Linked DNA regions of Homo sapiens. The protein of the gene in region 3 purifies or fractionates together with the protein of the main gene of each other region. This does not show direct contact. Each region holds a gene or a part of one and is shown on either strand. Other genes may lie near its edges.

The links.
Region 1: the proteins of PYM1 (region 3) and PINX1 purify together in Homo sapiens (co-immunoprecipitation; one large-scale study listed by IntAct). This does not show direct contact.
Region 2: the proteins of PYM1 (region 3) and PRDM10 purify together in Homo sapiens (co-immunoprecipitation; one large-scale study listed by IntAct). This does not show direct contact.

The regions. Positions count from the first base shown.
Region 1 is NC_000008.11:10,815,876-10,819,375, forward strand, and holds part of PINX1 (PIN2/TERF1-interacting telomerase inhibitor 1), read right to left. Parts: intron 1-3,500. UniProt on the Homo sapiens protein: Microtubule-binding protein essential for faithful chromosome segregation. Mediates TRF1 and TERT accumulation in nucleolus and enhances TRF1 binding to telomeres. Inhibits telomerase activity. May inhibit cell proliferation and act as tumor suppressor.
Region 2 is NC_000011.10:129,992,644-129,996,372, reverse strand, and holds part of PRDM10 (PR domain zinc finger protein 10), read left to right. Parts: intron 1-3,729.
Region 3 is NC_000012.12:55,921,187-55,924,915, reverse strand, and holds part of PYM1 (partner of Y14 and mago), read left to right. Parts: intron 1-1,144; exon of another isoform or gene 1,145-1,475; intron 1,476-3,729. UniProt on the Homo sapiens protein: Key regulator of the exon junction complex (EJC), a multiprotein complex that associates immediately upstream of the exon-exon junction on mRNAs and serves as a positional landmark for the intron exon structure of genes and directs post-transcriptional processes in the cytoplasm such as mRNA export, nonsense-mediated mRNA decay (NMD) or translation.

The DNA.
Region 1 (3,500 bases), on a different chromosome or scaffold from region 3:
CACTGAGCATGGCTAAGTGCAGGAAGTAGATCATGGAAACGACAATCGGCCTTTAGCACTGGGTAGTGACCCCTGCAGATCTGAGCAGCCTCAGCATCAAACGGAGAGACCATGTGGTCTGTACACACGATATTCCACTCCTAATCAGACGATTCTGTCGGCAGCTGTGATTGTCAGGGTCACGGGCGGTGTTGGAGGGGTATGCAACTATGATTGGGGTTAGCACAAGGGAGGCCTTGGTGGTAATGAAATAGTTCAGGATCTTCACTGAGATAATAATGGTTACACAATCCACAAATGTGATAAAGGGGCACAGAGCTGTATGAGCAGATGGTACCAATGCCAATTTCCTGGTTTCATCATGCTGTACTGTAGTTACGTAAGATGTAACCACTGGGGAAAACCAGATGAAGGGTACACAGAACCCCTTTACTATCTTTGCAACATCCTGTTCATCTATAAAAAGTTAAAGAAAAAACCCTCATGACTATTAATCAAGGGCTGCAGATGTTTCTTAGATATAAATACATTCAGATCATCCAGTTCAATAGAGAGACGAAAAAATACACAAGCAACACAACATCTATGCTCCAGATGCTCAAGCTCTTTCTTAATTCAGCCTCCAGCCAATAAGGAAGTCAAGTCGTTCTTCAGGCTGGCCTGGACACCTGGTCACATGCTTGTCAACCCCTAACAGCTCACCTCTGACTACAGGTAAGGTAAAGAAGTTTTGAAATTTAAACCATTATTTTCCACAAAATAGCAACAGCCAATCATTTTCCCACAAAGTTACGATACAGCATCAACCACTGGTGTCTCTGGTGAAGCTCAACAGAAGCTGCTAAGGCCTAACTAACCCCCTTCAATGTAGATTTTTTGTTAAATGAGAAAGAGTTCATTAACTTCGGCAGGACTGCTGTATTATCGGAGAAAGGCTGATTTTGGAATTGGACGGACACAGATTTAAAAGCCCACGTGTGCCATTTTGGAGCATTCTAACAATTCTCTCTGTGCCTCAGTTTCCTCACTGCTACAGAGGAGATACTGATATTTACATGACGGGATTGCTGTGAGGATGAAATGAGAAAAATCCAGCACAGGGTTTGGCACACAGGTGCTTAATAAAATTGGAATTCTACGATGGCAGTCAGGAGCTGTAGAAATTAAAATCAGTAGGCTTCCCTTATTGCAAGGGTGATGCTGTTACCCAAGCCAAGAACATGGTTAACGCCAACGTTCTGGAACTCTGGATGCTGAAGACAGATCAGCATCGGCACCTAACTAGAGCACCCACAGAGCTACTGCTACCTTAGTGGCCCGCACTACCACGGTTTCCAGGACTCTGGAGGGAGGTGACCTCCAGCAACACCTTGGCCTCTGCAATGCCAAATATAAATCCAGACCGACGGAGCTATGAGAGTCAAGCGAAGCAACAACATACAACATTCCCGCCAACTGAGGATGGGAGCCGAAAGAGGTTGTATTTTCAAACAAATCTGATCAAAGTCCTCCTGCCTTTGACTATAAGGGCTGTTGTAACTAACAAGGTTAAGGTTTCTTAGCAATAGTCTACTCAAGGAAGGTACCGGTATACCTCAATAAAAGCAAACTTAACATATGAACATCCACAAGGATGTCAAAGATAAATGTAGAGGTCATTTTGCTTTATAGAAAGATACTCTGTTTGTCTTAAATGTGATTACATTTAAATAGATTCTGTTTTCTGCACACATGCAGGCATGTCAAAAGGAAAATACTGCCTAGACGCGACCTCCTCAGTGTGGCACACAGGTCAGCAGCAGTATCACCTGGGGGCTCCTCGGATGGGGATGTACAGGCTCTCAGCCCCCGCCCAGGCTTCCTGAGTTGGAATCTGCAGTTTGACAGGGAAGACCTGTACACACGGCAGGACTTGAGGAGCTCTGTCCTCAGGGTTACTCACGACCCGGAAGCCAGAAGCTCTCAGTACAGCTGCATGGCAGGCTATCCCCGTGTTCTCAACCCTCGCTCCTTACTGAACGTCAGAATAACTGCTGCAACAATTGGGGAGGAATTAAAAAAAAATTTTTTTTAAATTTTTCTCCTTTTGTAATATAGATACCTGGACCCTGACCGAAGATTTAATTTAATCGGTCTTGGGCAGAACCCTGGCATTAGCATTTGTTTAAAGCTCATTAGGCAATGCCAGGACGACCTTGTTGAGAACTATGGCTACAGACGGAGAGCAGGGCCTGGTAGAAGACCACCTCACCAACAGGTAGGACCTAAATTTATCACTGGAAGAAAACACTGAACTGGAAGAGAGAGAGAGATGTGACTAATGGAAATCTCACACAAAACACGATGTTGCATCAAGGTTGATCATCTCTACACACACTGGACCAAAAGAGATTTTCCTGGGGCTAGCATTAGGGAACTGCTTTTGAAGCTCCTCAAACACAGGTGGATGTCTCACTTTAACATGACTTAGCTACCAAAGAGTCAAGTAACACCACACAGTGTTGAAAACCTCAAGGCACCCAACACCCAATAAATTCTCAAACAGAAATCTGCCAGAGGATCAGAAACCTCTGATCTCTTACAACTAAGAGCTTTCTGCACCAAACACATAAATTCTCTTAAAGTTCTACAAAAGCCCACAAGTAACATTTCCCTCCCTGATCTGTTCAACTGTACATTTTCATAGAGGGTGTCCGGGAGGGCAAAGGCTGGGGGTGGTGGGTGAGCAGCAGGCAGAAGAGAGGATCAACGTGCAGGGATGTGGAAACGCCAGTACAGAAGGCACGTGAGCCCCACGGGGCTGGGGAGATGGGGGTTATCTCAAGGTATGGGAGGGACGTGGAGTTGATACAAAGGCTCAGGGTGTGATCGTGGGGTGGGGGCAGCTGTTGGGCAGAGCAAAGGAGATGGAGTTCAAGAGGCGCGGGACTGGAATTCTAGTTCTTCCTGAGGACACGGAGACGACTGAGAGAGTCAAGGAAGAGGGGTTGGAGAGGAGGCTGGGATAAGCCAGAGGCCATGTCCTTGGTGAACAAGGAAGAGTGGCGTAGTCCAGGTCTCACGGTGAGCACTGAGGGCAGAGGTACAACCAGAAGCCAGCCTGTCTGACCATGGCTCTTTCCAGCAGCCCCTTGTGAAGGAGCAGCCGGCACGGCCGGATGTCAGAGCGGCTCCTCCCTAGTGACCACTGCCTATCCCGTGACTCAGCATAGTCCGCGCAGGCACCAAAGCCAGGTATCCTTTCCCAGCCTGCTGCTTCCATCTGCTGAGGGTGCAGGGGCAGACAGGGGCTAAAAGACCCAGGAATTCAGTCCCAATCTGCACAGGGAATCATCTAATGAGACTTCTAACCACTGGTAATTCTGGACTCCCTAAAAATTATTACTATTAAGAAACAAACCACCACCCTAGAAATAAAGATTTCTGTCAGTCTGGAAAAATGCCAGGAATCAATAAACCAAGTCTTCTTTTTTGTTCTATGGTCACCAAGGGCCCTGGCT
Region 2 (3,729 bases), on a different chromosome or scaffold from region 3:
CACAGGCTGCACAAAAACAGGTGTCTGCCGCCTGCGGGCTGTGGCTCGCCATCCCCTGTACCAGAGCAAGCTGAACCCACACCGCCCTTGTTGAAGTGTCAAGACCATCTCATTTGAAAGTAATCCTTTTTGTCTCTGAAGGTCCTGCAGGATTTTGTACTGCTTTATAACAGTAACATTCAGTGCTTACGTTGTATTGTACTCCAATTATTTGTGCTTATTTCTTGCTTCCCAAACAGATTCTAAATTTCTGGAAGCTACAGGTGATTTTTAGCCCCCTCACGTAGAATGCAGTATAAATGAGTGCCTTTTACTTACTGGATTCTAAAATGTTTTGAGGGATAAGTGAGTGAATTAAAATACTTGAAGTTGTTTGTAAAGTTTTCCTCCCTTTTTTTTTCTTTTTCTTTTCTTTTCTTTTGTTTTTGAGACAGAGTCCCGCTCTGTTGCCCAGGCTGGAGTGCAGTGGCATGATCTCAGCTCACGGCAACCTCCGTCTTCTGGGTTCAAGTGATTCTCCTGCCTCAGCCCCCCAAGTAGCTGGGATTACAGGAGCCCGCCATCACACCCGGCTAATTTTTGTATTTTTAGTAGAGACGGGGTTTCATCATGTTGGCCAGGCTGATCTTGAACTCCTGACCTCAGGTGATCGGCCTGCCTCGGCCTCCCAAAGTGCTGGAGTTACAGGCGTGCGCTACGGCCCCTGCCCCTCTCCCCCGCCTTTTTTTTTCAAGATTCTTATTTTTGTGTGCAAATTCTACCATTTTCTTAGAATTGCTTGAAGATTTTGAGGCCAATTTATTGGGGGTTATTTTCAGTCTTTCCACAAACCATGATTACAGGCAGTCTTAATAGAATGTCCTTCTAATAGGGACTAGCTATCATTCCTTTAACTAATTATTGCTCTTTGTTTGACTTTTTAACTGTCCTCTCTGAGACACTTGTTTACGTTTAGTCTTCAACACAGAATATTGACAGAACCGTGTCCAATTTTGCAAAGGAGAGAAAGTAGGTAGAGGTCAGGGAATTATGCAAGTATGGGAGAGGGGTCAGAGCGCATGGGAGAAAAGGGTCTGTATCCTCAGCCCCAGGCAGGGGATGTATATTAATAAGGTTTCAGTCTCTTCCATCATGTATTCATCTTCTCCTTCATTCTTTTTCTCTTGAAGTTGATGAATTGAAAATTATTCCGGACTGTGTAAGTACTTTATCACTGGATAAATATAAGGACCCATGAATGGTAATATTTGGACACCACTTTATGTGACATGCAAGTTCTCTCAAGTACTTTAGTACTGTGGAAGTGTGAGATGTTACATTACTACAAAACAGTAATTCTGGAATTAAAATGAAATTATGTCATAGTAATTGGACTTTGATGAACTTTGTTTCATTTATACATTTTAAGAAAGTTTATGTTGGCCAGGCGCAGTGGCTCACGCCTGTAATCCCAGCACTTTGGGAGGCCGAGGCAGGCGGATCACGAGGTCAGGAGATCAAGACAATCCTGGCTAACGCGGTGAAGCCCTGTCTCTACTAAAAATACAAAAAAAATTAGCCGGGCATGGTGGTGGGCACCTGTGGTCCCAGCTACTCGGGAGGATGAGGCAGGAGAATGGCATGAACCCAGGAGGCGGAGATTGCAGTGAGCTGAGATTGTGCCACTGTACTCCAGCCTGGGCGTCAGAGCGAGGCTCTGTCTCAAAAAAAAGAGAAAGAAAAAAAGAAATTTTATGTTAACTTTTTAATATTTTTTAATTTTTTTAGAGACAGTGTCTCACTGTGTTGCCAAGGCTGGTCTCTAACTCCTGGGTTCAAGCCATCCTCCTGTCTCAGCCAACCGAGTAGCTGGGGTTACAGGTGCAAACCACCACCACCAGTTTCGTTTCTTTTTTTTTTTTTTTTTTGAGGCAGAGTTGCGCTGTGTCACCTAGGCTGGAGTGCAGTGGTGCGATCTCGGCTCACTGCAACCTCTGCCTTCTGGGTTCAAGCAATTCTCCCTGCCCCAGCCTCCTGAGTAGCTGGGATTACAGGCACCCACCACCACGCCTGGCTAATTTTTGTACTTTTTTTTTAGTAGAGATGGGGTTTTGCCATGTTGGCCAGGCTGGTCTCGAACTCCTGACCACCCGCCTCGGCCTCCCAAAGTGCTGGGATTACAGGTGTGAGCCACTGCACCCAGCCCCAGTTTATTTTCATACTTATATATACTTATCCCAAGCTCTAGGTATCTCACCAAAAACTTATACATCATTTACAAAATATATTTTTTTCAGATTCATGGTTTTAAATGGTTATAAACTATAACAGATATAGAAAATTCTAAAACTTTATTGAGTGGCTTTAAATAAAACCTAAATAAATGAAGAGCACAGTGGCTCAAGGAGTGGAAGATTCAATATTGTAAATGTGTCAATTTTCTGGAAACTGATTTATAGATCTAATGTAATCCCACATTTAAAAAAATTAGACAAGCTGATTCTAAAACATTTGCCAAGGCCCAAGAAAAGGCAAAACACTTTGAAAAAGAAAAGTTAGGAAAACCTCTGCTAGAGATCAAGAAGAGTTATAATAATTAAGATAGTGTTGGGCCAGGCGCGGTGGCTCACGCCTGTAATCCCAGCACTTTGGGAGGCCGAGGCGGGTGGATCACGAGGTCAGGAGATCAAGACCATCCTGGCTAACATGGTGAAACCCCGTCTCTACTAAAAATACAAAAAGTTAGCCAGGTGTGGTGGCGGGTGCCTGTAGTTCCAGCTACTCGGGAGGCTGAGGCAGGAGAATGGTGTGAACCCAGGAGGCAGAGCTTGCAGTGATCCGAGATCGCACCACTGCACTCCAGCCTGGGCGACACAACGAGATTCCATCTCAAAAAAAAAGATAGTGTAATATTGGCACTGGGTAGGCTAATAATGATGGACCAATAGAACACCATATGGAGTCCAGAAACAGTATTATGCATAGCCAGACACTTGATTTATGACCTGGAGGCATGGCAGAAAGGCAGGCAAAACAATAACACTTTTAGAATTAATATAGGAAGATACTCATGACCTTAGTATAGAGAAACATTTCTTAAACAAGATGCTACAGGCACTAATAGAATAATGGGCAAAAGTCTTGAACAGCCACTTCAGAAAAGGAGAAATCCAAATGTCTAATAAACATGAAAAGGTGTTCAACCATGTTAATGAAGGAAATGCACATTTCAGCCACAGTGCCAGAACACTGTATACCTAAATTAAAGTTGGATGTTGAACAGTAGGGACTTTCATAGATGGCTGGTACAGATATAAATTCATATGACTACCTTGGAAAACAGTATTATCAAGAAAGTCCAAAACATGCATACTTTAATGACCAGCAGTTCCAATATTAGAGAAATGCATGTGCCTGAGAGAACTAGAAAAAGTATTTGGAGTAATTTATTTTCATAATACTGATTCAATTACTATTTCAGGACTGCTGTGTTGTGTTCTGAACACACAGGTAGCTTTGTTTCTAGAACAATGGTGAATAAATGTTATTTATATTTTCCTTCTGTGCTGAATGTTTATATAGTCCATCCAATGTCTTCTTCAGTTCCTAAAAGAATGCTGGAAACAGAATAGGCATTTAATAAGTATTCTTGTGTTTTAAAAAATTATTTGAATTTTTACAATGGGAGCCCTTCATCACAGCTTTGTAGTTACCTCAACTCTGGCTGTTGAGTAATTTGCTCAGTTAAAT
Region 3 (3,729 bases):
GTCAGGGGTTCAAGACCAGCCTGACCAATATGGTGAAACCCCGTCTCTACTAAAACTACTAAAATTAGCTGAGTGTGGTGGCATGGTGGCGTGGGCCTGTCATCTCAGCTACTCGGGAGGTTGAGACAGGAGAATCGCTTGAACCCAGGAGGCAGAGGTTGCAGTGAGCTGAGTTCGCACCACTGCACTCCAGCCTGGGCGACAGAGCGAGACTCTGTCTCAAAAATAAATAATAAATAAATATTTAAATTTATTTTTTATGTTCTTCCATAGCTGTTTCCCCAACCTTTTCCAGATCTGTGTGACCATCCCTTTTAATTCTCCTTCTTTTGGCAGAAGACTTCATTTTTATTTCACTGAAAACTCAAGGCCTATCATTTTTGTTTCCTTTTTCTTCACAGCCAGATTTTGTTTGTTTCTTTCTTTTTTTAAAAATGAAGCGATGCAGACTTGCTATGTTGCCCAGGCTGGTTTTGAACTCCTGGCCTTAAGTGATCTTCCCACCTCAGTCTGCCAAAATGTTGGGATTACAGGTGTGAGCATGCACCTGGCCCCAGATTTCTCGAATATGAAGAAATCTCCTGATATTTCTGTTTCCTTGCTGCCTATTTGTTCTTAACTCTTTGCAGTCATTATTTCTAGCACTACCCTCTCTCGAGTTGCCTATGCCTTTTTCTAATTGTTTCGTGAATATCTTCACTCTTGGATATACTGTTATACCTCAAATCCAACCTGACCAAAACCAGTATCAGTTTTTCCATCACTATTTCTGTTAAAGGCACCATTATTCTAGCCAACCCAAGGTAAACTTTTGTATCGTTTCTTTTTTTTTTTTTCTTTGAGACAGAGTCTCACTCTGTCGCCCAGGCTGGAGTGCAGTAGCGCGATCTCGGCTCACTGCAACCTCCGCCTCCCTGGTTCAAGTGATTCTTCTGCCTCAGCCTCCTGAGTAGCTGGGATTACAGGCACATGTCACCACGCTTGGCTAATTTTTGTATTGTTAGTAGAGACAGGGTTTCATCATATTGGTCAGGTTGGCCTCGAACTCCTGACCTCGTGATCTGCCAGCCTTGGCCTCCCAAAGTGCTGGGATTACAGGCATGAGTCACCACGCCTAGCCATTTCTTTTTTTAATATTCTAAATATACTTGATTTTTTAGAACACTTTTAGATTTATAGAAAAATTGAGAAGATGCTACAGAGATTTCCCATATACCCTACACTCAGTTTCCCCATTACTGTCATCTTACGTTAATATAGTACTTTGCTTGCAATTAATGAAGCAATATTGATATATTACTATTAACTAGAATCCATACATCATTTCATTAGTTTTGTTTTTTTTTTTTTTCAGACAGGGTCTTGCTCTGTCACCCAGGCTGGAGTGCAGTGGTGCAATCACCATTTACTGTAGTCTTAACTTCTGGGCTCAAGTGATCCTCACATCTCAACCTACTGAGTAGCTGGGACTACAGGTACACACCACCACGCCTGGCTAATTTTTGTATTTTTTGTAGAAATGCGGTCTTGCTCTGTTGCCCAGTCTGATCTCAAATTCCTGGGCTCAAGCAATCCTCACGCCCTGGCCTCCCAAAGTGCTAGAATTACAGGTGTGAACCACCATGCCTGGCTGATTTCCTTAGTTTTTACTTAATTTATTTTTATATTTATTTATTTATTACTATTTTTTTGAGACGGAGTTCTGCTCTTGTTGCCCAGGCTGGAGTGCAATGGTGAGATCTCAGCTCACCGCAACCTCTGCCTCCCGGGTTCAAGTGATTCTCCTGCCTCAGCCTCCTGGGTAGCTGGGATTACAGGCATGTGCCACCATGCCCGGCTAATTTTGTATTTTTAGTAGAGATGGGTTTCTCCATGTTGGTCAGGTTGGTCTCAAACTCCTGACCTCGGGTGATCTGCCCACCTCGGCCTCCCAAAGTGCTGGGATTACAGGTGTGAGCCACTGCGCCCAGCCTTTTTACCTAATTTTTTTTTGTTGTTCCAGGATCTTATCCAGGGTACTACATAACATTTAGTTCTCATGTCTCTTTAAGCTCCTCTTGGCTGTGACATTTTCTCAGGCTTTCCTTGTTTTCCATGACCTTGAGTTTTGAGGAGTACTGGTCAGGTATTTTGTAGGATATCCTTCTATTGGAATTTGTCTGATGTATTTCTCATGATTAGATTTGGGTTATGTGTTTTGGGGAGGAAGACCACAGAGGTAAAGTGACATTTTCATCACATTGTATCAGGGTACATAGTATCACAATGATTTTTTACTGTTAATATTTTTGTTTTTTTGAGACAGGGTCTTCCCTCTGTTGCCCAGACTGGAGTGCGGTGATGCCATCATGGCTCACTGAAATCTTGACCTCCCAGTCTCAATTGATCCTCCCACCTCAGCCTCCTGAGTATCTAGGACCACAGGCGTGTGCTATCATGACCAGCTAATTTTTTTTTTTTTTTTTTTTTTGGTAAAGATGGTCTCACTATGTTGCCTGGGCTGGTCTTGAACTCCTGAGCTCAAGGTATTGTTCCCCTTTGGCCTACCAAAATTCTGGGATTACTAGGCATGAGTCACTATGCCCAGCCTGTTAGTATTGACCGTGATCATCTGGCAGAGATATTGTTTGTAAGGCTTCACTGTAAAGTTAGGCTTTACCCCCTTCCTTTCCATACTGTAGGGAAGTCACTATTGCCAGCCCACGCATAAGGAGTAGAGAGTTGTGCTCTCCTTAAAAAAAGAGATTAAGGGCTGGGCATGGTGGCATATGCCTGTAATCCCAGCACTTTGGGAGGCTGAGGCTGGAGGATTGCTTGAGGCCATCCTAAGCAACATAGCAAGACCTCTTATCTACAAAAAGATTTAAAAAAAAAACGAGCTGGGTAAGGTGGCACACACCTGTGGTCCCAGCTACTCAGGGAGCCTCAGAGGGGAAGATTGAGCCAGGGAGGCTGAGGCTGCATTGAGCCGTGATTGTGCCACTGTACTCCATCCTCAGTGAGAGGCTGTCTCAAAAAACAATTAAAAAAACACACTATTTGGCATTTTTCTGCCCAGGAGATTTTTTTCTTTTCCTTTATTAATTTATGTATATCAATATGGACTTATAGATGTGTATTTTATATGTTAGGTTATAATCCAATACTATTTTATTTGCTTTATTGCTCAAATGTTCCAGTTTTGAACATTGGGAACTCTTTTAGTTTTTTACTTGGCCCATCTCCCTTTGACATTTGCCATCATTGCAGGTATGATTTTGTTCTCTGCTCCAGTCCTGCGGTCTGCCATTTCTCCAAGAAGCCCTTGTTCTTTTTACTAAAGAGTAATGTTAAAAACTAAGATCTGATCACTAGGTGTTTTTATTTCTATGGGAGTATTTTTTTTTATTTATGGGAGTTTTATTTTTTTATGATTATTTTTATTATCATCTTTTACTTCTCTCTTGCCCTCCTCATGTATATCAGTTATCAAAATATCATTCTTTTATTCCTACTGCTGTTACCCTTATCCCATCTACAGTACTTGTTAGCTATATAGCCTTGGGAATCTAAGTCTTAGTTTTCTCATCAATGAAATTGGAATAACTCCTGCAACACAGGATTATTATGCGTATTAAAATTTAAATAAAGTAATTTACATGTTTGGCACATAAAAAGTGTCCAACACATTGTTCTATAATTATTACTATTATGTAAGGGTCATTGTATGGGTTAGAAGAAATTACTATA